Linked DNA regions of Homo sapiens: regions 1 and 2 are each reported to be linked to region 3. Evidence: microRNA targets listed by miRTarBase, many of them from high-throughput screens and not tested one by one. Region 3 holds a microRNA gene; each other region holds the end of a gene's coding sequence.
Evidence for each region. Region 3 holds the annotated microRNA hsa-miR-5587-5p (AUGGUCACCUCCGGGACU, at 4,480-4,497, opposite strand). A microRNA usually pairs through its seed, bases 2 to 8, with sites in the 3' UTR of a target mRNA and lowers its output. Matches are read on the target gene's strand: a 7mer-m8 pairs with bases 2 to 8, a 7mer-A1 pairs with bases 2 to 7 and ends in A, and an 8mer does both.

Region 1: miRTarBase lists UBL3 as a target of hsa-miR-5587-5p. Seed matches in the 3' UTR shown: 8mer at 4,693-4,700.
Region 2: miRTarBase lists RHOQ as a target of hsa-miR-5587-5p. Seed matches in the 3' UTR shown: 7mer-A1 at 3,395-3,401.

Annotation. Positions count from the first base shown.
Region 1 is chr13:29,762,079-29,769,188 of GRCh38, reverse strand. UBL3 (ubiquitin like 3) reads left to right here. Exons shown (of 5, transcript NM_007106.4): 4 at 1,494-1,571; 5 at 1,882-4,818. The coding sequence ends at 1,934. Among named protein-coding and RNA genes, the nearest start is that of UBL3, 85 kb to the left of the region's middle.
Region 2 is chr2:46,578,472-46,585,386 of GRCh38, reverse strand. It overlaps RHOQ (ras homolog family member Q), which reads right to left. Exons shown (of 5, transcript NM_012249.4): 5 at 699-4,459. The coding sequence ends at 4,304. It overlaps PIGF (phosphatidylinositol glycan anchor biosynthesis class F), which reads left to right. Exons shown (of 6, transcript NM_002643.4): 6 at 3,796-4,450. The coding sequence ends at 3,909. It overlaps RHOQ-AS1 (RHOQ antisense RNA 1), which reads left to right and starts at 5,149. Exons shown (of 2, transcript NR_104182.1): 1 at 5,149-5,352.
Region 3 is chr16:532,703-539,812 of GRCh38, reverse strand. It overlaps MIR5587 (microRNA 5587), which reads right to left and starts at 4,497; the gene lies at 4,445-4,497. It overlaps CAPN15 (calpain 15), which reads right to left. Exons shown (of 14, transcript NM_005632.3): 2 at 5,815-5,867; 3 at 3,671-3,784.

The sequences.
Region 1 (7,110 bases), not on the chromosome of region 3:
TTTTCCTTGCTATCTCAAAATGATGATGGTAGTATATACTGAATGCTTTCTTTGTACCAAGTTCTGTGCAAAGCACTTTGCTTGGATTGTTTGATTTAATGGACACAGCTACAAAGGGCAGGTAATGGAATTAGTATCTCCAGTTTAGTTGAGGAAACAGAAGCTTAGAGGGTAAGTAACTTGCTGAGAGTTACACAGTTGGAAGTAGCAGAGATGAAAATTTGTAATCCAGGTCTGTCTTATTAGAGTCAAGAAGACGGGTATGAGAATGATATACAGCTTGGTATGTGTACATTTTAAGTTCAGTTCAAGGTTTGAAATGTTGATCAGGCTTTCCCAACTATTTAGTGAAAATTTTAATAACATAAAGTCTTACTTACATTTTGATTTAAGTCAGGCCTAGGAAGTTATTCTAAAAGCCTCCCTTTTTTCATTATGTATTTATGGGCCATCGTGCTTCATTTGAACATCAGAGGTTAAAAGTGTAGACCAAATAATGGCTGGCCAACTTTAAATGAGATTGGAACTCACCTTGAATATATGAAATAGTACTAGTGTTGAAGATAATTAGGATTCTTTTTAAAATCTGCATGTTAACCATCATCCTATAGAGCAGGTTTTAAAAAGCAGGTAGCTGGAGTGGAGGATCATTATTGCTAAGTGATGATCTTAGGCCTTACTTCAGTTTGTAGTTTTTGAAGAGAGGGTAGTTTGAGGTGTCAGAACTAAAACATAACAACTATAGAAACAGTTCTAGAAGCTAAATATACCAGCTGCTTCTAATTTTATACACAGAGTAACAAAGGGATTTACCATGAAACTCAGTATTTGTATTTGCCTTAGTGGACATGGGTGTGTGTTCTATGTCTGAAATATTTCATGATAAAATTTATTAAATTTATGAGTGAAAAAATGTTATAAAGACTTGATTAGGAAACAGTGATTATTGATAATGCCAAGAAAGTGATTATTTTAACCTAATCTTTTTAAGAAAGTTCTTTTCTAATGGACGAATACAGGGTGAGAATAAATGTTTAAAATCAAGTTTATTTCTTGCATTTCTACATCATAGTAGCCTGTTCAGTGCAGTAATTTTATTAGGCAATAGACAAGTAATTAGATTTAGAAATGAATATCTCTTAATCTAAACTTTTACCTAATATAGAAAAGAGTATTCTTTTAAAAAAAATTTAATCCTTTCTCCTCTAAAGGTGGCCTCTGATATTAGCCAATTACATATTTTTTCTTATATCATCTCTTAATATGGATAAATGTGTCAAGCAAATGGCTATATAACTGCAAAAAATAATTTCTAAATTTTAAATGTTATTTCTGATAATATTAACCTAATTTTGTGAAGGTACTCTGAGTTAAGTTGAATCTGTTAAAGAAGTCATAAAAAAGCAATCAATTTTTAAAATGGTTTTAAATCTGGATAGTGATTTTAATAGGTCGATATATGTGTAACTAATCATCTTTTGCTTTTCACATAGCATTAAAACTTCCTTTTGGCAAAACAACAGTGATGCATTTGGTGGCCAGAGAGACATTACCAGAGCCAAACTCTCAAGGTAAGCCATGCACTGGAAAAGTATCTCAGTTGAGGCACAAAGACAGGCATTCAAAAATGCTAGGTTTTTCTTGGATATGCTGAGGGAAGGGAAGTTTGCATAGTTTATGAATAGAGATTGTCAAGCAAATAACCAGACATTTTTGAAACATGCTAAAATTAAAAGAACATTTATTACAGCTTCTTAATTTTGAAAAATGCAAACATTTTTAAAAACTCAAAACTACTACTTCCTACACTTGATTGCCTAGCCCATTTTCCCCTCCAGTTCTAGAATTTTTATAAACGAGGCTCTTCTTCGTTTTCCCTAGGTCAGAGGAATCGTGAGAAGACTGGAGAGAGTAATTGTTGTGTAATCCTGTAAACACTGTCTGCCTAGTGTGATGTGATATAGTCTTTGTCTTTCATGCTGCTGGGACAGAAAAGACCCGACATTGCTTCAGAAACCGTTCAGAACAGTCTGCCTGTAAACACATGGAACTGAATTACCACATGAACACTGTCATCTTTTCTCATGAAAGTAAAAAGAACCAAGAACATTTTTCACTCTGATTTTTTATTTCTTGTATTTTTTGTTGAGCTGTTTTAACACATATTGGTTTTTGAATGCAGTCAATCTCCAGGGGAAAAGTTAACAAGTTATCTTTCGTAGCAGAAACCATTTTGCTGCCACAAAATTTTCATCATCAGAACTAATAAATCAAGTGTTCCAAATACAATTTGCATTAAAAAGATTGGCATTATTTTCCTCATCAGCAGAATTTATAACAGTGTGTGGTATCTAGAAATACTTATATATACAATTCCACACTGGAAGACACTCAGCAATTAATGAAGTTAATTACTGGGCCAACTTGAGAGGAAAAAATGGAAAAGAAACTAAAATGTTGGGTGAATTCTACCAAAGTCAGCCGTGGTGGCTGCACTGGCACAGAATACTAAACTGAGTGTGACTATTTTCACTGCAACAAATGAAAAAACAAAATGTGCCTGTTTAAAGCACTCAGTAGAGGGCTGATGAAACTAATTTTTTTTCCTTTAAGACATGCACTCTTGAGTCCTACAGTAACTGAGTGTTTGTTTAGACAGCACAAGAAGGGGTGAGAGTGCGTCTCCTAGCCTTAATGTGGGAGGGTAGTTTCAGTCACTCATCGGCTTTCATTATTGTGCAGAAATATTAGAAAACCTCATTGATCAATTTTATGTATTTGAATATCAGCAAATTGAAATTTTCCATAATTATCATTAATTTGTAACCACATCCAGTGTCATGCTTACTCCTTAGAGTTCAGATGAATTCTTAAAATTAAAAAAAAACTCCATAGTACTAATTTTGTTTCTTTATATAGTTTGCGTTTGATATTAGTGCTTGCAATTGTATTAAAGTCAAAAGCTGATTTTTATGGCATACACAAGAATGCCACTTTTTCTTTTATTTCATACCAATAATTTAAAGATTGATATGCTAAAAACAATTTGCACAGCACTAAAGCATGAGCTACTTTCATCTAAACCTGTAAAAATATGAAAGATTTTTATATTTTTTCACTGGGAAGAAATTCTTCCTGGATGAAATTACAAATATGTGTAGAATATATTTAATAAAAGACTTATAAAATACCTAACTACAGGACTTAAAATATAGATTGGCGCGTAGTATACAGAACAATATTCCATATAAATAAGTTTAGCCTTTATAAAAATGAAGTTGCAGGCTGACATTACATTCTGTACTAAGTGTCAACAGCCCTTACAAACATTAAATGTAAATGGTTTCAAATGGTCAGCGTTGTTTAAATGTAATCATGTTATTTTATTCATTGTTAATGCTTTGATGAAAAGGCTTTATATGCAGTAGATCTACGAAAATATTGTTCATACTGATCAGAATTAAATTTGTATAGAGCAGAGTTTTAAAATGAATGTAAATAGCACTAAACGTTTTCTTTCTGCAACCTGTACTTACAGATTCTTCCTGTAAACTAAATAAAAAAAAAATGATAGTGCATTTTGGTGGTAATTTTAAAGGTCTTGATTAGGTCAATAATTGTTTAAGCACCGTCTCATTCATGTTTTCTACTTTCATTTCTTAAGCTTTTAAAATTCATTTAATTAATATTCTGTTGTTGTTTTGGGGAGTATTCCCAATGTATCTTTGATATTTAACCTGGTTAATTTGTGGACAGTCACAACAATGGATAGAATTATGTAGTCTCCGTTATCACTAAAATGTTATCTTCAAGAGATGTTAAATATTTATATGCTTTGTTGACTAGCTGAAATGTGAATTCTGTTAGTGTTGACTAAAGAATCTGGTAGTTGCTTAATTGGGCAATTAAACAATTTATGGCTCTATTTTGTAAAACAAACTACTGGTAATTATTTTTAATACCTATTTTCATTCTGATTACTCTTTTTTTAAGTTAAAGACTATCAGTTAATTAAGATTGAGTTTTTATGATGGTTAAAAATAATTCTCTATTGGTTTTTCAATATATTTTTCTGTGTGTTCTCAGATTATATATTTCCCTCAATTTAGAGTTTGCTAAGTGAAATAAACTGGTTCACTAGTAGAGAAAGAATTACGTCGCTTAATACCTAATATCATAGTTGTACAATATGAAAAAAAAGAATAAAAAGTAGCAGTAAAATTATATACTGAAAACACCAAAAATTTAGATGCCTTAATAGTATATACGTGAAATACTCAGCTGTCCCTTTAAAAATAATTCCTTGGACTGCCTGGTGGTTAAAATACGATTCCTCATATCCAAGGCTACTTTTGAAGATCCCTCTGCCAAAAATATAGCTCACTTATCTAAAGGTGAGAGCTGCATAGATCCAGTAATGTACATAAAGCCTGAATGATGAGCCTATGTCCCTGCCTAACGCTGGTGTCTCACTCATCTCTTTTACCTAAATTGTCCTGAACTTTGTTAAGTGTTCTGGACAAGGCCAAGCTTTTCTTTATTAAAACCTCAGCATGTCTCCCTGATCTGAACTATTTGCTTTCTCTTCAAGATAAGTTGTATTTTACCATGGAAAAATACAGTATCTAACATTACCATTCACGTTAAATGAAGTTTCCTCATAACATTTATCTTTAGTTTTATGAAGTCATCGTGACCAATGTTACAGTAATTTCTGTTAGCTGATTGTGGTAAACAATGTTTAATGTGAAAAGAAATTAAAACTTTCTTCATCTGTTGTAGAATATTTCTCTTCTTTAAAATGGCTTCTATTCATAATTCTGGTGTATTTGCCTATTCTTTATTTCACTACTGTTTATGTCTTTTTTTCTTTCTTCAGTTAATGATACTCTTCAGTAAAAATCAACATTGAGCCAGCCTTTGCTATAGTTTAGCAAAATCAAAGGGAAGTATCAGCCAAAATTTAATATGCCTTCATACCGTTTTTATTTGTAACTTTTTCGAGCATTCCAGTTTGTTTTCCATTTTTGTGTTATAATATGGTCACTTGTTAGCCAAATGGAGTGATTGGGGTGGAGTGATTGGGGTGGGGGAGAAGGCACATGACCTATAATTACAAACACAGCTATAATTGAAACACAGCTGCAGGCTGTGCTGGAGTCTAGGCACAGTTTTTGTGGCCAGGGTAGGGTGGGGTTCTTGGGTGTGAGCAGTGGTAGTTGGGTGTGACTCCTGGCTTACCCTGACCCCCTGCCAGTTGGTGTGTTTCCTTCAGAAGGCAGTGGCTTCTATGAGGCTTTTACACAGGAGGTGGTTGACTTCTGAAAGAGATCATGGATAGAACTAAATGAGAAACACTTAGTTCTTAAATATCAGAGTTTAAAGCAGTACTGAAATGTGAAAACCAATTTCACTTACTACATTATTTTATAGTCTTCGACAGTGATGTCAGATGTTTGTCTTTTAATATTTTTCATATTCCTCTTTTTCAAAATGACAGCTTTCAAGAAATATGGAGTAGGCATAGTAAATTCCCATTTGGGGAAAGGAAATGCCCATCTCTTCCACGTGAGTCAACCAATAAAAAAGGAGTTGGGTAAACACATTTTCTAAAATGGCTCTGGAAGTGGTTTGTTGTTAGAAGTCTTAGAAGAGTCTGGCTGGTTTTAGAATGTAGTAATTACACATTCAAACATTATTTGGTATCTTTTATTTTCTACACATGTTCTTGAAGCTTATTTGATGTAAGGGAAGTCTTACAATGAAGTGGGAGAAACTTTGCTATAGTTAAATAATACAAGGAGGCAGCAGAACCTGGAGGGGAACCGGGACAAGCCGCAGCAGAGTGGGACCCTCAGAATTCTTGTAGGAACATACAGGAAGACATCTGGGAGTTGGCCAGTTCTCAGTTGTCTGCCAGACGAGATAGTTTTTCTTCTTCCCTGCATGCTGGAACCTGTTTCCCCTTATGTCCTTCCTTACCACATGGTTTTCCGTGGGCATCACTCACCTGGGTTCCATTAGGGTGCCACTCCCCCAGTGTTTCTCAGGAGCATTTTTTTTTAAGTCTGATAATTTTAACACATCTACATTTTGACTGATGCTGTTCGTCAGTCCTCAGAGTTCAGAAAACCACAAGAATAGCTGGGCTTTGGAGTCAAGCCTGACTTTGTTCTGGGTGATTTTGAAGAAGTTACTTAATATCTGAGCTTCAGTTTTTTCATTTATAAAAATTAACACATAGTTTAGAGGGTTGTAAGGTTTATTTTAAAATAAATATTTAGAGCACTGATTTGTCTGAGAACTCATGCAAGCTAGCAAACCTGTCAGAAGGCCTTATGTTGGAAATAAAGTGCTGGGCATCAACGTATACTCTAAACTTTATGGAAGTAGCTTATGAAAAGGCCAGAGAAAATGTGGATGATGCTGTGTTCATTTAAAAGGAAGATGAGTGGGGACATCTCAAAAATAAGCTCTGGAATAGAAGGAAAATAGGGGACCCAGTAATGACACAGCTTCAGATGTGTATATGCGAGGTACCAGGTCATACATAGAGCTTAGACATGTTAACATAAGGACATAAACATAACTGTCAAAATCTGAGATGCTATTTGTTACTAGGGTACAAAAATACACTGTTCAAAAGAAATGGGTCTAATAAAGGTGGGAAACTATATCAAGAATACACAAAGGGAACTTAGACCTGAGAGGGAAAGTAAATGAGGAGTATGTGAATAATGAAAAAAGACAAAAATATGATTGTCAGGTTATATTGTACTTTTTCTTCATCAGATTAAGGCTATGGATTTCTGTTCTGAATCTGCAACAGGAAAACACAGAGACAAGACATGGTAGTGATGCAGTAGTTGGGCTATAAAAGACCTTGCTGGGTGTCTTGTTTGCTAAGAGTCCGATTAACTCTTGACTTGCTGATAATGCCATCCCATTAGGTTACCAGAAGTAACAAAACTGCTGCTCTGGGATTCATTTTGGCCCCGTGGGAAAGAATGATTCTAGAGGAAATGTTAGGAGCCTGCAGCGAACATAGGTGTGCACTCAAATGTTAGTAATGATGAGACTAAGGCAGACACTGGTGGTTGCTTCTCCAGC
Region 2 (6,915 bases), not on the chromosome of region 3:
CACTTGAGTTGTAATATATTTGATTATACACCATAGGTTGTTTCTTCTATTTACTGGCTAAAAAAATGTAAATTTATAAAAAACTCTCACTATCTTGCCCAGGCTGGCCTCCAGTGCTTGGGCCCTTGTCATTTTGGTGGCAAACACTTGTGAATGACTTCCTTTACATGAATGTCTTTGTTCTAAGTTTCCTATTTTCTTTAAACAAAATAATTATATAAAGCCATCTCAGATTACCATAATTTGGAGAAATCTTTATAGCAGTGCAGCTGAATTATGTATTTAATAGATATCACTTTTTTAAAAAATCCTATTTGTGGCATGAAGAACGTTGAATAGAAACATGTCTGTATGTGAGATAAGGAAATAGTTTTAAAGGAAAACCTTAGGATCTAATTATGAAAATACCTGATTAAGCTAGGATTTACAAATGAATTCTGTTGCCATAGTGTAGTTTAAAAATTTTTAGAATAATTATAAGAAAATCAGTAGGAAACTTGCTTGAGGAATAGTTCTTAGTGGGCAGCCTCCCTCCTTTTGCTGTTCCCTATTTTGATAATCTATTTTGATCTTCAAAAATCATGAAAACGGCCCTTAAAGAAATTCTCTTTTAAAAAAATGACAGGGTTACGATTAAGAAATGCTTATTTCAGGAAAGCCAAGGAGGTACTCTTGTAAGTACAAAGCCTGACCCATCATTAACAGTCTTCAAAGCCAGTCCACATTTTAATTTGCTGATGGCATGCACTTCTTGATTTACATAACATGAATAACCAAGTGTTCCAAGCCGTAACCCTTCATTAGACAAAATTTTTTAACATTTCATTTTTGGCATTCTGTTGGAGGTGAGGTGTGGCAGCTGTTTAAAAGAATGTGCGTGGTGGTATGTATGTGTTTGAGAACAAAGAGCCATACTGAAATTACAAAATGATTAAAATACAATTTAGTAACCCAAATTGGAATCTAGCTGGGATTCATGAGGGATTACTATTCTCCCTATACTTTAACAGTGAGCTTTTTTTAACAGAGTATAGGGACTCATACTTTGCCAATGATTAGTAGACTCTCAGCATAAATAGAGGAAAGAGTATTATCCTAAATGTTTACATAGGGTAATAAATAAAAACTACTAAGGTAAAAAGTTCAGTGCTTTACGTAGATAGTAAACTATGCATAGTATTTTATTTGTAACCCCATGTGTTAAGAAGGGACACTGTTAAAGTAACAATCATTTAAAAGTAACAACCAACAAACTGGTATTTAATTTGGTATTTTAAATAGTTAAAAATCAAATGGAAACAGTGTCTAAAGTCACTAAGATAATTCATAACAAAACCCATTAATCCAAGCTCCACTTATTGTAAATAGAATTCACCATGAGCTAACCTAAAATGTACCTGTGGAGATAAAACAAGAGTGTAAGTTAGCAAAGTATTAAATAAAATTTCAGGGAGCCCCTAAATTTATTTTTAAGAACTTTAGAACTAATTCTCTATATGCAAACACTGATTAACTCAAATATCTTGTAAGTTCATTCATACATGGCCTTATTTGAGGCAGTGTATTTGTATTCACTAGCAAAATTCATGTCAGTAAAATATTTTTGAAGCAGTTTATTTCCCAGATATTTCACTAGTTTGAAATAGTCATTTCAGTGATTAGTCTGAATTTCTATTGAAGCCTAAGCTTTGAATGAAGACATGCTTCTGAAAATAAGGCAGTTTTTCTCTAGTCTGCTTATCAATAGAAAACAAATCTTTGGTTTTTAGTTAAAGTGACAGGAAGGATTTTTGCAAAAAGAAAAACTAAAGAACCAAAGCAATTAAAAAGCTCTTGATAAGCAATGGGGAACTCCAAACCCATCAAGGTCAGTAGAGTACCTAAGGCACCTCAGCTTCAGATGTGACAGTCATCTTTGCTTAGAGTTCTGATAATCTATATACATGATTTTTACCATCTTGAGAATGTGAAGCTGAAAAGGTAACATCCAACAATGATTACTGTGAATAAGAAAATTACTGTGATAAATGGGAGAGACGTTGGAGATCTCTGTTCTACCTCCCATATTTATAATGAGGAAACCAAATCCCAGTCAAGAAACAGGTGACACCAGTTTGTGTAGACAAATTCCTAATCTGTTTCTGTTAGGGCAGGGCAAATTCTAGACTTCTAACTTTGAATTAGTAAACCAAGTGTGAAGGGTTTCAGAGATATGAATTGGAGCCCCCTCCCCCCACCAAAAAAAATCCTCATAAATCCCCAAAGGCAAGTTGGAAATGTGTAATAGTTTACTGTTGTAATTCGTTTATACCATGTGTTGGACAACTCAGCTAATATGTTAATTGATTTATACAATTCCTTTCAATTTTATCTAAAAATAAGCAGACCAAAATTAAATAAGAAAGTTACATAAGATTCCATTTGAGCATACATAAGGCCATGATACTTTAATGTGAACCACCATTTCTTGGAAGAAAGAAGACATCCAAATGTCCGATTCAGAGAGAAAGTTCCTGGCCAGTCATCCAGTAGACTCTCTCCACTCTTCAATGGGAAGGTGATGCTTATATTTTTAAAAATCTCTACAAAGCTCACATACAACAAGACAGTACATCCTAGATTTGTGACTGATATGAGCATTTAAGGCTGTCATTTTCAAGTATAAAAGTTTAGTGTTCCATTACCCAATCTGTGCAGTAGACATAGCTATAAGCTCAAGTCATGTGAATTAACAGAAGCCCACCAAAGACATTTAAAAAATTATAATTTGGGCAACAGCAAGTTTAAATGTAGGAAAGGCTAGAAAAAATGTGATGAGATTGTTTCTCTAAAATGCATTAGGTTGTTCACAATGAAGCTTTGTCTAACACCATTATCTGATGCATCCATTATCTGATGCATGGCATATGCAATAAGGCAGATCCACAGCAGACCAAACAAGGAAGCTGAATTAGGTAATAGAACTAGTAATTAAGATGGTTCACCTCTAACACAGTTCTGTGGCCTGTTCCCCCCAGAGAAAGATTAGAAATGGCTCCAGTGTACCAAATAAGCTTCACAGAAGAACATGAAAATTTTCCTCCAACTTTTTTTTCTTTTTTTTTTCAAGCAGAGCCTTTCACTTAGGGACCAACTGCTTGTAGATGAAATAAATCAACATTAATTACTTCTAGCCTGATGTAATATGGCTGGAGAAAAGGGGTCTCTGGAAGCCGGTATTTTGTTTAACTTACATTCTAGGTGTGTATATAAGTTGTCGCTCTATAACTTCTGCTGTGGTTCCAACATCTATATCTGAAAGGTGGAAGCAGCTGCTCTGTTACAATTTTCATGTAACACGCTTGGATTCTAGGTCTTTCCTCTTTAACACAACTTAAAGAAAGTTTCTTGTGGTTTGGTCAGCATACACACTTCTCATTTCATTTGATGTACACAGCCAAAGTGGGAATTAAAAAAAAAAAATTACCAACTAGTTCAGAGAGCTAAATTGAGTCTATCATTATGGCAAAGTCTGACCCAAAATTTTAATTTGTAATTTTAGCATGTGTCTCATGCACTTTGGGGAGCGTCAAACTAAATCTACAATTGCCAGAAGCCTTGTTACAGTTTAATGCACATTAACTAAAATGTGTACATTTTTAGTGTTCATGATAAATGCAGTTATGACCTTATTACACTTTTGGCATTCTTTAAGAAAGCACATTAAGCTTTAATATAGAAATATTTAGGTTACACTTGTGCTCAAGTAATAATAAAACATTTGTTCTTTTTTGATCTCATACATTCTCTCCTCAGGTATGGCCCATCTCCTGTACGCTTGGAGCGACCTTTGGCTACGTGGCTGGCCTTGTTATTTCACCACTCTGGATATACTGGAATAGAAAGCAACTTACATACAAGAACAATTAACTGGAGCAAAGGGAGATATTTCTTTGTGCAGATTCTGTAAGGGCTGGGCAGAAATGTGTATGGTCAAAGCCAAGCAGTTCCATTTACAGCTCTGTTTTTTACGTAGTTACAACATGATGTGATTGTAGCTTTTTAAACTATGAAACCCCTGAGAGATTGTACCTTCTAGTTGAAATAAAGTATTTATAATAGATTGTGGCTTCAGATGCTGCTTACTGCTTCTTAAACCTTTAAGGAACATTCTTAATACACTTTATAGAATTCTGAGGACAGGTTTTGTTTTCTTTCAAGTTTTGAACTGCTTCATTACCTATAAAAGGTCTGGGTATAGCTGTAGCATTTCATTTGCTTTCTGAGAGAAATGGACAGTTTCCTTGGCCACTGAAGATGTTTCTCACGTAATTAAACAACAGTTTATACATCTTGATCCTATTCTTTTTTTTACAGTGTGTTTCTTTGGAGTTAAAATGGCTATGATAGCCTCATCAAAAACAGTCTTCAATCCCTTCTGGGTTAAAGCTGAACATTCCACATAGCAGCATGCTCCTATCTGGGAGGGAGAAAAAAAATCACAAATATATAAGATCATGTTTATACAATTGGCATGACATAAACACATCATTATAAAGAAAATTATAAAATACAGCTATGCAAAAAGAATACATTCATCATCCATGTTCATAACCCCAGAGGGGATTTTAAAATACTAGTATATGTCCTTCCAGACTTTCTATGAAAAATTATTTCACTCACCACATATTTACTGGGTATCTACTATATGTCAAGCACTGTTTAGGTCCTGGGGATATGTCAGTGAACTGAACGAAAGAGCAGAGTCCCTGCTGTGTGGCGTCCACATGTGCTGACATCTGCTGGGTAAGAGGCACAGGGGAGGGAATACAGAGCAGATGGTTGCAAATGCTGTGGGGAAAAAGCAGAGTGAGGGAGGCGGGGAGTGCTGAGGACAATGGTAGTGGGGGTCCGGGGAGGCTTCTCAATGGGGAAGTTTGAGCAGTGAGGGATACCTAGGGGAAGAGCTCCAGGCAGATAGATCCTGATGCAGGAGCATGCCTGGAGCAGTCAAGGAACAAGATCACACTGAGGATGTGGTATTTGAGCAGAGACCTGAAAAGAGTGAAAGAATGAATCATGTCCATAGGGAAGAACATTCCAGGCAGAGGGAACAACAAAAGTACAAAGGTTCTCAGGTAGAACTTTGAGGGAACAACAAAGGAGACCAGGAGGCCTGGGGAACAATGAGTAAGGCAGAGAGGGAACAGAGGCTTGTAGGCCACTGTGCGGACTTTGGCGTTTAGTCTGAGCTGGGGACCCACTGGAGGATTCTGAGCAGAGCAGTGACATGATTGCGCTTACATTTTTAAGACTTACTCTGGCTGCTGTGTTGAGAACAGATGACCATGGGGCATAGACAGAAGCAGAAAGGTGAGTTGGAAGCTATTCCAGTAAAGCAGGCCAGAGATGGAGGAGGTCTGAACCAGGTGATAGAGGGAAGAGTTAGAAAAAAGTGTCTGGATTCTGGATATGTTCTGAAGGTATGTTGTGCCGAAGGCTAGATGTGTGGTATGGGAGAAAGAGCAAGGTCAAGTACGACTTCAGGGCTTTTTTTTTTTTTTGAGACAGTTTCACTCTTGTTGCCCAGGCTGGAGTACTATGGTTCGATCTTGGCTCATCACAACCTCTGCCTTCTGGGTTCAAGCGGTTCTGCCTCAGATTCCTGACTAGCTGGGATTACAGGCATGTGCCACCACACCCAGCTAATTTTGTATTAGTAGAGATGGGGTTTCTCCATGTTGGTCAGGGTGGTCTCCAACTCCCAACCTCAGGTAATTCTGCCCGCCTCGGGCTCCCAAAGTGCTGGGATTACAGGTGTGAGCCACTGCACCCAGCTGAGGGCTTCTGACCTGAGTAACTGGGAGGACAGGCTTGGAGGGTAAAAGAAGAATCATATCTTAGACATGTTAATTTTGAGATACTCAGCCATGTAGATGGACTTGTTGAGTAAACAGCTGGATAACCAAATTGAGAATTTAGGAAAGAGGTCCAGGCTGGAGATGGAAATCCAGGAATCTTTGGTTGTAGACTGTGCAAGCTACAAGACTGACAGAAGCTCATTTAGGCCTAGGGAGTGTAGCTATAGAAGAAGACATCCACAAAGCTGAGTGCTCATCACTGGGGCCCTCCAACCAGGGACCAAGGAGGTAAAGAGATGGAGCAGAGTCCAATGAGAGGGGAGAAAAACCAAGAGAGTCCAACTGAAGAAAGTTTCAGGAAGGACGCAACTGTGCCAAATGCTGATGAGTCTAGAAATGAGATCATACTGTTTTGCAACTACTTTTTTCCCTTTAGCTACATAATAAATATGAAATCTTAACAGATAGTATGAAGTTTTAATAGATGCAGGGAATTTTTGCCATTATAAACAATTCAGCATCTTTGTAGCTCTAAGTACGTCCCTAATAATTTACTTTTATTATTAAATATTATAAATGGACAAATTATAATTTTATATAAGGTACAAAGCAATATTTTCTCTCTATATATACATATACACACACACACACGAGTGAAATGATTAAATCAACATAATTAACATCTATCACCTTAAATACTTATCATTTTGTGTGGTGAGAACATTTAAAATTTACTCTTTTAGCAATTTGGAAATACGCAGTCCACCATTATTTATTTATTCATTTATTTTGAGACAGGGTCTCACTCTGTCATCCAGGCTGGAGTGCAATGGCACTATCTCGGCTCACTGCAACCTCCACCTCCTGGGCTCAAGTGATCCTCCTTCCTCAGCCCCCCAAGTAGCTGGGACTACAGGTATGCACCATCATGCTCAGCTAATTTTTTTTTTTTTTTTTTTTTTTTTTTTTTTTTTTTTGGTAGAGATGGGGTTTCACCATGTTGCCCAGGCTGGTCTCGAATTCCTGGGCTCAAACGATCCACCCACCTCAGCCTTCCAAGGTGCGGGGATTACAG
Region 3 (7,110 bases):
TTTGCTTTATCACAGAAGGAAGGGTCAAGAGAACGTCTACCCAAAGGTAGGCAGGGGAGGTAGCAGAGGGCGTAGGGAGCTGCTGCAGGCCAGGCTGGATGAAGATCTGGGGGGCCGCTTCACACAGCTGCCCACATGCCACTCTGGAGACTTCCAGAAGGACGGGAGCCCGACCATGCCTTGTGCACCCACAGAGCCAGGCCCCGAGAAACAAGGACCCTGTGAGGCTATGGCTGAGGGCGGGGGCCGGTTCCTGGGGTCTCCCCTCCAGAGGGGCGAGAGCCACCCCTGCTGGGAGGCCTGGGAGAGGCACAGGCTGTCCAGGGCCTCTGACACGCGGCCCACCTGTGCTTCTGGGAAGGCCACCTTACCCCCTCTGGCTGAGGAGAAATCAAATACAGTTGAGAACGTTAATCCTGAGACGGGAGGACCCTGCCCGTGCAGGCAGCTGCTCTCCCCAGAGTCCGATACACTCCCCTCTCCCTGCCAAGATTGGGGCCAAGATGGCGTCCCGGCAGGCTGGCCGGCTGTGGGTTGACCAGCAGTTCCTGCTGTCACACACGTCACAGCCCTTCTTCCAGCTTCTGATTAAGTCTCTGGGACACACAGCCAGCGTCAGGGTAGAGCTTAGGAGGAAAGGGTCAAGTAAGTGTCAAAGCTGCCGTGCGTGGGGGATCACCTGAGCCCAAGAGTTTGAGACCAGCCTGGGCAACACAGTGAGACCCTGTCTTTATAGAAAACTAAACACTATCCGGGTGTGGTGGTGTGCACCTGTAGACCTAGCTACTCAGGAGGCTGACGTGGGAGGATGGCGTGAGCACCACAGCTGCATTCCAGCCTGGGAGACAGAGCCAAAAAAAAAAAAAGCACCAAAGAACATATCCTTTGGAGCTCAGGGAGGCCTGGGGGCAGCCCTAGGTGAGCGGGCTGGGGGGGGTGGGGGTGCAGTTCCAGCTTCTCCCCCGCGACGATGGGGAGCAGCAGAGGGCAGGGATGTGGGGGGCCTTTCCAGTCAGTGCTCTGACACCCGGGAGGGGCCTGCAGCTCTGAGGCCACAGGGGCTGAGCTCAGCGAGGCACGAGCACCTGGGATCGCACAGCAGACGCGCCAGCCCTTCCCTGGTTCCTCCCCACAGCCTTGGGGACAGAAGCTTCAAGGGCAGGGGCTGAGGGGGTGAGACAGAGAATTCTGGATCCCCTCTCCTTTGAGGCCTGGGGCAGAAGCCGCCGAGTCCCCCGTGTGGTGATAACGTTCGCCTGAACCACTTCACTCGGCACGAGGGTCCGTTTTCTCTGAAGGTGCTGGGGTCGTGGGAGGGTTGAAGCATTGCGGGCCCTGCACCCTGGAGACCCTGCCATCCTGTGGTGGCTCAGGCCTGCCCCGTAGGCAGAACGGTCACAGGACACACGGGGCCAGTGTGGGGTGCGGACCAGAGCCCAGCCCTAAGCCTGGTCCAGCCCGCAAGTCAACAATGGCTTTTACATTTTTAAATGGTTGGAAAAAAATCAAAAAAAAAAACAATACTCTGTGAGAGGTGGGAGTTCCATGAAATTCAGGCCTCGGGGTCAGCAGGGCACAGCCTGGCTCACTCGCCTGCAGGCGCTTCTCCACAGGGACCACCCTGTACTCACACCTGCCCTCGAAGGGGCACCTGGCGGCCACGCCGGAGAGCGCCGCGCAGTGTGGACGGGGCCACGGGAGTCGTGGCGGATCTCCTGGTATCCACGTAAGACAGGTGGAAAGGAACAGACAAAACAAGCCTTGGCGACGTGCTCTGTGTGATCCGAGGTATCTGAGACATCGCTGCGTCCGTGTGAAGCGAACGTAAAACATGACGGAGACATCCAGGACCCGTTCTCCAGGCCGGGTCTCTGGACGTGCCACACTACAGGCCCTGCAGCCACCAGTGCTGGCGGCCTCCACAAGGGGCAGCGCTCAAACATGCAGGACGCAGGCGAGGTCCACGGGGTCTCGAATGCCACACGGAAGCAAGGCCGGGAGCCCAGCACGCACGGAGCAGGCTCGCTAGCAGGGAGCCCACGCATCAACCCAGGGCCTCTCGCGTGGCTACGCCAGACGCCGGAACCACCCAAACGGCCCCTGCGTTCCCCAGCCCAGGCCACGCAGGAGTCCCTCACGGGAGACGGGTTGGGCATTTCCGACACTCCCCTTCTGTAGCCAAACCCTGAGCGGGTCAGGGCGGGGCAGGGCTTGGGTGGGAGCGGCGACTAGCGGAGGTGCCACGGGACAGAAGCTGCTTGCACTGGGCCCTGAGCTGGTTTGGCTCTGACAGGAGCCCTGCCCGTTCTGTGTGAGGACTGCACACCTGCCAGGGCCAACCTCAGCTCCTTCGCCACTCACCCACCCACGCACTCACCCACGTGGCACCTGGGGTCACGCGTGCCGCTAGAAACACAGGCTCCTACCAGGCCCCGCCTGCTCCTCACTGATGCCTTTAGGCCCAAGGCAGAAGTGGTGCCCAGCTGCACCCAGGGCAGGAAGCGAGCTGCTCACCAGCCTCCTGCTCCCCTGCGCTCACTCAGAAAACCTTTCTTGAGCTGGAGCCAGTCTCAGGCAACTGACCCTGTGGGCCCCATCTGGACAGGAGGGAGGCCTGTCCTAGGAGAGCAGGGACAGCACAGTCCCCTCCCGTGGGTGCTCGGAAGAGAAGAGAGGACCCTGCAGAGAAAAGCAAACGTCCCTGTCACAGAGGCTGGACAGCTGGCTCTGTTAAGCCCTCTCCGGGGTTTTTCCAGCACACGCCAGGGGATCTCCAGAGATGGTATCGCTGAACCGCCCCGATCCGCTGCCAGAGGAGTCAAGAGCCCCGTGAGGGGTGCCGGGGGCCCTGCCCTGGCTGGCGAGGCCCACTAAGGAGCAAGAGCTCCCGGGACACAGCTGCCAGCCACGTGCCAACCTGAGGGTCCCATCGCAAGGGTGACTGTGGGAAACTGGCACCGATGCTCTTCCCGAAATCCACCCTGCTGGCCTTCCCGAGTGCAGCTGTGGGTCCTGGGTCCCCCTGTGTTCCGTCCACTCATGATGGACAGATGCTAGTACAGGATGAGCAGCTACGGAAAAGGCTCCCAGGCCAGGTGCAGTGGCTCACGCCTGTAATCCCAGCACTGTGGGAGGCCGAGGTGGGTGGATCACGAGGTCAGGAGTTCAAGACTAGCCTGCGCAAGATGGAGAAACCCTGTTTCTACTAAAAACACACAAAAAATTAGCTGGGCGTGGTGGCGGGCGCCTGTAATCCCAGCTACTTGGGAGGCTGAGGCAGGAGAATGGCCTGAATCCGGGAGGCGGAGGTTGCAGTGAGCCGAGACCGCGCCACTGCACTCCAGCCGGGGCGACAGAGCGAGACTCCGTCTCAAAAAAAAAAAAAATAGGCTCCCAGCCCGCGTTCCCCTAGAGGGAGGGAACTGCATTTAGGAGGAAGACTCCGATGGGAGGGCCCCAGGAAAGAGGAGCAAGAAGTGGTGGGAAGGAGGGAGGGCAGCACCAGCAGCCACCCCCAGGGACAGCGCCCAGCCAGGGCTGACTGCATCTCGGCCGTGGGTGCTGGCTCCGGCCAGACCTCGGCAGGGGGGTTATCATGTCCAGGGCCACTGAGGACAGCAGGGACAGGGCCTGCTGCGGCCAGCCAGAGGCTCTTGGGAGGAACGCTCACCTGCCACTCCCAGGTCCGGCCCACCTCAGGGCCTGGGCACACGTGAATCACCCAGTGCAGTGGCCCCGAGGACGCAGGTCAGGTCAGTCCGTGGTTCCCATCCTGGCTCCCTGTCTGAATAACCGGGGGGGGGGGGGGGCGTGCAGGGGCACTGTCACCAAGGAGTGTGCCCAGGCCAGGCCGAGGGACAGCAGGGTGAGGCCCCCGCAGAGCATGCCGAACTCTGACCCCTGACCCCAGGGACATGCCCTGGGCCGCTGCTGCTCCTGTAGGGCCTGCCGCCGGCCAAGCATCTGTGCTGCTCCCGTGAGCTGCATGTGCCCCCCGGGCCTCTGCTGTGGGCCAGGCTGTTTCAGGTGCTCGCGAATGGGAACCAGCAGGAGCCGTGACCACAGGGCTGACTCTCAGGGCGGCGCCTCAAGAGTGGCCGTGACTCATGACTGCCACAGAGCCAGGCTGCAGCCACGCCCGCCTCTGGGCTCCCTGGAGGGGCAGGGTGCGGAGGGCCCCGGGCTGTGTGGATCCATGCCTGACCCCCACAAGTCCAACTGTGCAGCTCCCCGCCCTCCCTGGGAGCCGATGCCCTAGTTTTAAACGGGGCGGTGGCCTAGATCCAGCCTCAGAGAATTGCAGAGGTGAGGCCGCCACTGCCCTGTGGGGACAAGTGGTTAATGAGCAGGGCCAACTGGCCGGTCCCTGTCCTGTATGCCACACACACACCCCGTGAGGGCAGCAAGGAGCATCCAGCCAGGGGACGTGCACGAGAAGGGCCAGGATGATCACACTGCCCGGGGCTCAGCACAGGGCTGAGTCCCGGAGGTGACCATTGCCGCCCCGCTCCATCTGCGGCCACTGAGGTCTGCTGGGGGTCTCTGGTGCTGGCCTTGACAGCCCACCCGTGGCAGGACAGGGTCTCGAGGTGCCTCTCGGTAGGTGGTGGGCTCAGTGGGGGTGACCCGTGGGGACGGAACGCATGCTCCTGAGGCTCCAGTGGATGCAGGCAAAGGCACCTCCCGGGGTCAGCGTCCCTACCTGGGGAGCTGGGAGCCCACATGGGAGCAGGGCTGGCACAGCGACCCCCAGCCTTGCGCGGGCGGCACCCACAGCTGTGTCCACTCCGCATACACTCCTCACTGTCTCGCTAACTAATCATGTACACGGCTGTACCCCCGAGCCCTCCCCTGCCCCGCAGGTGACACAGGCGTGTCCCACTCACACAGCACCTGCTCCTGGGCCCTACATCTCCGTCAATCTTTCACAGAGCCATCTTGCCACCATGGGAACCACAGCGACCCCAACAAGGATGCCCCGGTGTCACCCCTGCCCGAGCTGGGGGTGTGGGGGGCAGCAGATGGAAAGCGGGGGCCCCTGTGTCCAGGCAGCTGGTGGCCTGGCCTTGCCCCACGGCAACCCCACTGCGCCCTAAAACTGCACCCACCAGACCAGAGGCTGCTGGTCCAGGCAGGAAACAAGAGCCAGCCACTACCGGGACGAAGCTCAGTCGGTGCCCACAACCTGAAGACAGGCAACTCTGCCTTTGTCCCCACTGACGCTAAGGCCCCTGTGGAGGAGATGACCCCAAGGACAGGAAGCTCCTGCATGAGTCGGGTGGGAGGGCTGAGGACAGGGCTTCCCATCGTCCCTACAAGAAACAAGGCCAGGGCCCCGCCCTGGGGGAGGACGTGGACTCCGACCGCCCGCCCCAAATGACAACTGGCAGGACAGCATTCTCCAGAAACAGGTGCAGGCCGCTCCCCAGGGACCAGGCACCCTCCTGGCTGAGGATAGCGGTGGGGGCCGTGCACAGGCTCCTCACCAGCCCCAGCCCCAGCGCTGCCGTGGGGATGGGGAGCTCCATCTGGGGGCCGGGGCCACAGCACAGGGGAGGTCCCCAAAGGGACAAACACCCCTGTCGGGACCCCGGGCCGCCCTCACCGTCGCCTCCCACGACAGGACCACGGCCCAAACGGCTGGGAGAACGAGGCTCTTCAGGGCAGGCAGGGCTGCCGGCCTCCAGGGGTTCTGTGAATCAAGGGCTCCGAGAGGCCCCCCAGCCGTGGGCACTCCAACCCTGCTGCTCCACAAACAGTTCTGCAGCGCAAGCAAACCCATAAACGAGCCGCAGGGCTTGGGAACAAACTCACCTGAAGCTGCAGCAAGCTCCCAGGCCCTCTCTGTGCCGCGTCTGGGCTGCTGCCTAGAAAGGGAGGCATTTAATCAGGCACCTCAGCTTCCACCAGGAGGACTCTGACCCTGGAACACAGAGCCCCGCCTCCAGCCCTCTCTGCAGGAGCCAGAGTCCCGGGAAATCAGCCCCGGGAGACCCTTCGCCTTAGAAGCTGTCCGAGCTTCTGTCCTTGGGTGTCTGTCCGAGCGCCAAAGGCAGCCCGGGGAGCAGCAGGGGCTCAGCAGGCTCCTCACTACCCTGGTTTAAGGCCCTTGACCTGTCCAGTGCGGTCAACCTCCGGCCAGCCAGGACCGCAGACAGGGCCATTCAAGATCCTGTCCGGACCTCCCACGGCCCGACCCTGCTACAAGGAGCAGGCCGTGGGCAAGAGTCCATGAGCGGGGCTGCAGAGCAGCACCAGCCAGGGAGGGCGGCCGAGCTTCCCAGGCACTGCCAGGGAAAGGTGCCCAGCTTGGGCAGGCACAGGCACACAGCCAGGTGGCCACCTAGACTCCCCCGGACCCCAGCCCGAGTGCCACCCGGCCACTACAGCTGTCAGCAGGGCGGCCACTGCTTCGAGCCAGGCGGCTTTGCTTCTCTAAGGTCATGCTCTCCATGGCGGACCCACTGCGGTGGGCAGGATGCTCACGCTTCCCGCCCTGTCCTTCCTGGGCCCTGTGTAGGGCCCACCATGGACTCCTCACTCAGCCATCACCCTCTTTTTTGTTGGTTTTAAATTTTTTATTTTATTTTTTGAGATAGAGCCTCGCTCTGTCACCCAGGCTGGGGTGCAGTGGTGCAATCTCAGCTCACTGCAGCCTCCGCCTCCCAGGTTCAAGCTATTCTCCTGCCTCAGCCTCCCAAGTAGCTCGGATTACAGGCGCCCGCCACCGTGCCCAGCTAATTTTTGTATTTTTAGTAAAGACGAGGTTTCACCATGTTGGTCAGGCTGGTCTCGAACTCCAGACCTCAGGTGATCCACCCGCCTCGGCCTCCCCCAGTGCTGGGATTCCAGGCATGAGCCACCATGCCCGGCCCCTCACCCTCTTTTGTGATCAGCATGAGGATGGTGTGCAGGTGTGTCCAGTGGCACAGGCATCACCTGTTTTTTTTTTTTTTTTCTCTGACAGAGTCTCGCTCTGTTGCCCAGGCTGGAGTGCAGTGGTGTGATCTCGGCTCACTGCAAGCTCCACCTCCTGGGTTCACGCCATTCTCCTGCCTCAGCCTCCCGAGTAGCTGGGACTACAGGCGCCTGCCACCAGGCCCGGCTAAT